Regions from separate parts of the Homo sapiens genome. Here region 1 is linked to region 2. The links come from fine-mapping of genetic effects on gene expression. Tissue or cell type: whole blood. Region 2 holds a variant in brackets; the other region holds the start of a gene. All regions are shown on one strand. Distances are from middle to middle.

The links. PIP is the estimated chance that this variant, and not a neighbour inherited with it, causes the effect.
Region 1: it holds the start of F7, and the variant in region 2 is fine-mapped to the expression of F7 in whole blood (TOPMed, PIP 0.98).

What each region holds. Positions count from the first base shown.
Region 1 is chr13:113,104,226-113,106,835 of GRCh38, forward strand. It overlaps F7 (coagulation factor VII), which reads left to right and starts at 1,566. Exons shown (of 8, transcript NM_019616.4): 1 at 1,566-1,680. The coding sequence starts at 1,617.
Region 2 is chr13:113,186,177-113,188,932 of GRCh38, forward strand. All of the region lies in intron 7 of PCID2 (PCI domain containing 2), which reads right to left. Among named protein-coding and RNA genes, the nearest start is that of PCID2, 21 kb to the right of the region's middle. RefSeq lists enhancers at 905-2,104, 1,279-1,573. The variant C/G (reference allele first, on the strand shown) is at 1,262.

The DNA of each region.
Region 1 (2,610 bases), 82 kb before region 2:
GACCTGGAGCCCCAAAGGGGAAGGGTACCCTAAGACCAGCCAGCCATCTACTCTCAGGTGGGAAAGGGGTAGGGTTTAGATATGGCCCCCTCCCCTCCACGTCCTGAAATTACCTTGGGCTGTGCTGGCCGAGAGCCGCGGGGACCAGATTTGAGCTGGACGTGAGCTTTATTCCAGACGGAGCAGCTACTTTGTAAGCGATCTCCCTGGGATCGATATCATGGAGGGGCACAGATGGGCTTCAGCTGTGCTGGGTGGAAGAGAAAACATGCCCTGTCGGCCCCTCAGCAAGTGCTCTGCTCTCTGGACTGAGATGCAGGTCAGCAGCAAGCAGGGAGGCTTTGGGGGTGCTGGGGGCTGCTTTGAAAGGCACCCCTGAGCTAAGACTTGGCTGTTGGGAAGGAATCACCTCCCTCCCTCCAGCCGTAAAAAGAACTGGACATCAGCTTCCAAAGAAGTCATCAGCAATGCAACTGTTCACATGGAGGATACTCCCTGCTTGAGGGGTCAGACAGGCCTGCTGGGCAACCCAGGAGGCTTGGATGACCGTCTACCCCAGTGTTTTTGGGATGGAAAGTTCCACATTCTGAGAACCCTCAGTCCCTGGGCAACCTGGGGTGGTTAGTCACCACAGCTTGTGGCTTGGGCCCATGACAGCAGGTAGAAATGACGTGGACTGCCGCCAGCCGGGCACAGTGGCTCACGCCTGTAATCCCAGCACTTTGGGAGGCTGAGGCATGTGGATCACTTGAGGTCAGGAGTTCGAAACCAGCCTGGTCAACACGGTGAAACCCCATCTCTGCTAAAAAAAAAAAATATATATATATAAATTAGCCAGGCATGGTGACGTGCACCTGTGGTCCCAGCTACTCAGGAGGCTGAGGCACAAGAATCACTTGAACCCGGGAGGTGGAGGTTGCAGTGAGATTGCACCAGTGCACTCTCCAGCCTGGCAACAGAGCAAGACTCTGTCTCAAACAAACAAAACAAAACAAACAAAAAGACGTAAGATGTGGACCGCTGGAGAATGGGGGTGCTGCCTGCAGTCAAAACGGAGTGGGGGTGCCCAGCTCAGGGCCAGAATGATCCTATTCCCGGCACTTCTCAGTGAGGCTCTGTGGCTCACCTAAGAAACCAGCCTCCCTTGCAGGCAACGGCCTAGCTGGCCTGGTCTGGAGGCTCTCTTCAAATATTTACATCCACACCCAAGATACAGTCTTGAGATTTGACTCGCATGATTGCTATGGGACAAGTTTTCATCTGCAGTTTAAATCTGTTTCCCAACTTACATTAGGGGTTTGGAATTCTAGATCGTATTTGAAGTGTTGGTGCCACACACACCTTAACACCTGCACGCTGGCAACAAAACCGTCCGCTCTGCAGCACAGCTGGGGTCACCTGACCTTTCTCCTGTCCCCCCCACTTGAGCTCAGTGGCTGGGCAGCAGGGGATGCATGGCCACTGGCCGGCCAGGTGCAGCTCTCAGCTGGGGTGTTCAGAGGACGCCTGTGTCCTCCCCTCCCCCATCCCTCTGTCACCCTTGGAGGCAGAGAACTTTGCCCGTCAGTCCCATGGGGAATGTCAACAGGCAGGGGCAGCACTGCAGAGATTTCATCATGGTCTCCCAGGCCCTCAGGCTCCTCTGCCTTCTGCTTGGGCTTCAGGGCTGCCTGGCTGCAGGTGCGTCCGGGGAGGTTTTCTCCATAAACTTGGTGGAAGGGCAGTGGGCAAATCCAGGAGCCAGCCCGGGCTTCCCAAACCCCGCCCTTGCTCCGGACACCCCCATCCACCAGGAGGGTTTTCTGGCGGCTCCTGTTCAATTTCTTTCCTTCTAGAAACCAGCATCCAGGCACAGGAGGGGAGGCCCTTCTTGGTGGCCCAGGCTTTGGCGGGATTATTTTTCAAAGAACTTTAGGAGTGGGTGGTGCTTTCCTGGCCCCCATGGGCCCCTGCCTGTGAGGTCGGACAAGCGCAGGGAGTCTGGGGCCTCTCAGAGTGCAGGAAGTGCGCACAGGGTGCTCCCAGGCTGGGGAGCACAGGTAGGGGACGGTGCGTGGGGGATGGCGCCTGGGGCATGGGGGATGGGGTGTGGGAAACGGCATGTGGGGCGTAGGGGATGGGGTGTGGAGGATCGGGGGTGGGGATGGCGTGTGGGGTGTGGGGGATGGGCCGTGGGGGGGTGGGGCCTGGGAAACAGCATGTGGGGCATGGGGTGTGGGGGTGAGGTGTGGGAAAGTGTGTGGGGTGTGGGGGATGGGGCATGGAAAGGGCGTGTGGGGTGCAGGGGATGGGGCATGGAGGTGTGGGGGATGGGGTGTGTGGGGTGTCGGGGATGGGGCATGTGGGGTGTGGGGGATGGGGCATGGAAAGGGCGTGTGGGGTGCAGAGGATGGGGCATGGGGGGGTGGGGATGGCGAGTGGGGCTGGGGCCTGGGAATGGTGAGTGGGGCATGGGGATGGCGAGTAGGGGGTGTGGCGTGAGGATGGCTAGTGGGGCGTGGGGATGGCGTGTGGGGATGGCGAGTGGGGGGTGGGCTGTGAGGGACAGTGCCTGGGATGTGGGGCTGCAGCCCTAGCTCACAGCATGGCCTTATGACCCCGGCCACCTTC
Region 2 (2,756 bases):
GGCAGGAAGCAACCCACAGTGGAACAAATCCAGACAGCTGAAAGGGCCTGCCCCACATGAGGGATGAGGGAAGTTTCTGGGGTGGCAATCATGTCCTATACCTCAGCAGCAAGCAGACAGATAATACTGTAGGTAGTTCACTGCATGCAAATTTTACCTCAAAAGACTGAAAAAACAGAAACTGAAGAACCTAGGGGAGGGTGTGCCACTGTCTGCAATTAACCTGGAAACAGTCACATGTTACACAACATTTCGGTCAACTACAGATGACCACATGTGAGATGGGGCCCTACAGAGTCTCACACTTGACCACATGTGAGATGGGGCCCTACGGAGTCTCACACTTGACCACATGTGAGATGGGGCCCTACGGAGTCTCACACTTGACCACATGTGAGATGGGGCCCTACGGAGTCTCACACTTGACCACATGTGAGATGGGGCCCTACGGAGTCTCACACTGTATTTTTACTGCATCTTTTCTGTGTTTAGATCTGTTTAGACACACAAATAATTCCCACTGTGTTCCAGCTGCCTACAGCATTTAGTGCAGCTCTTGCTCCTCGCAGCCTAGGACCCACAGGCTGCGCCACACAGCGGGGGTGTGTAGCAGGCCACGCCATCTCGGTTTACGAAGTACACTCTGTGGTGTTAACAAAATGATAAAATCACTCAAAGTCAAGGCACAAAAATACAAAAGTGCCCAGTACAGAAAACAAGCAGGTGGTTTACAAGCCACAGAACATAAAATTACTCTTAAAGACCAAAATGTGTCCATATAGAAACACTTAAAATAATGTAAAAATACAATTTTAAAATATCAAACCCTGTTTTATAACTGCCTGTGAGCTGCTCTAAGCAGGTCTATGACTTTTATCATTCCCTACGTGCATGACCTCAAACAAAAGTCTCTCAAGGTCTCGTTTTCCTCATCTGAAAACGGAGACAAATAATAATACTGTTCTATGACTTCAAAGAGCTATGGAAAAACCAAACAAAACACACAAGTACTCCGTAACTCACGTAAAACGCTACACGCATGGTAATATCGTAGCTGGTCTGGCACCAGGAATGATGACCTCTATTGGAGACTGTGACAAAAGCAAACCCCAACGGGAAAGAGATGTCACTGGGGATCTGCCCTGTCTTCTGAGTGTCCCCTCAGGGTGGAAATGCTGGGTCACATGGTAGCTCTACGTCCCACTTTCAGGAACTGCCTTCCCATTTCCGCACAGCAGCTGCACTGTTTTTGTTCCCCTGG[C/G]GATGTGTACGAGGCTCCAGTCTCCCTGCATCCTCACTGGCGCCGCCCGTCTTTCTGATTACAGTCATCCCACTGGGTGTGGCCTGGCAGCTCTCAGAGGTTCTGATGTGCATTTCAAGTGACTGATGCATTAGTCATTGGTGACTAAGTCACTGGTGATTAATGACCTTGAGCATCTTTTCATGCACTTACTGGTCACTTGCGTATTTTGTTTGGAAGATTTTTCAAATTCTTTAAACATTTTAAAGAATTTGAATTGGATTGTCTTTTTACTGTTGAATTGTAATAATTCTTTATATATTCTGGATATTAGGCCCTTATCAGATGTATTATTTGCTAGGTTATGGTTGTTTTTTACTTTTTTGAGAATGTCCTTTGAAGTCTAAAGTTTTTAATTTTGATGAAGTCCAATTAATTTTTTCCTTTGGTTGCTTATGCTTTTGTTGTCGTATCTGAGAAGCCACTGCCTAATCAAAGGTCGTGAAGATCACTGCTGTGCAAAAATATACGATCAAGCGAAATGTCAAGTATTCATTTAGGAAACACGGATTGAGCTCCTGGGGTGCAAGGAACGCTAGTGATGGAGAAGGCCCACGCCCTGACGCACTTCGCCATCAAATCGTTTGGTAAACGCAGTGAAAGAAATGTACAGTCTGCTATGAATGTTTATAAAAGGGAAATCTGATCCACCGTGAAGTCCAGCAGTGAGAGGCTTTAGAGAAGGCGGAAACCTTTAAATGAGTATAGACTGCCAGGAGTCGAGGAGAACCTTCCAGCAAAGGAAACGGCACCCATGGGAGGCCTCAGTGGGAAAGTGCCATGGCATAGGAAGGACTTTTCTACAGTCCAGCCTTGGTACGAAAGTTCTGAAGCGAGGCTGGGTAGGGAGGCCATGTTACCCCCACAGCACTATACATCTTGTAGGCTTGGCTGAACAGTTGCACAACTCAAACTCTGCCTATCTTCAGCAATAGGATGCCTGAGGTCAGAGGCTCCCCTCTTGGTTAAACCAGCTAAGACCAGCAGGATGCTAAGTGGAAGTCCACCTGGCCTTTGCAGGGCCTCCAACTTCATTACAACCTCATTTGCATGCTCCGTGACACTCCCACCAGTGCCACAGCGGCTGACAATCACCATGACAATGACGGGAAGACGCCGTAAAAGGACAAAAAGATGGCAGTGCTTCAGCTCCCAGAAGTTCACCGTCCATTTCCAGAAAAGCCATGAATATTCTTCCCCTTGCTTTCAATGTCCAACCCCTTCATTCAAGAAACCCTCTATTTCAATCCCCTCACCCCTCAGGAGTAGAGAAGTTGATTTGTGAGCCACACTCCTGCTTCTTCATTCCTTGGCCTTTACATACAGCTTGCTCTGCTCAACACTTACTTTCGGTTTCATGGATGGGATCCACAACACCCAAAAGGAAAAGTTCCCATCTTTTGAGGCTACAGAGTTTATTGGCAACAAACACAATGAGTGAAAAGAGAAGCTGGGC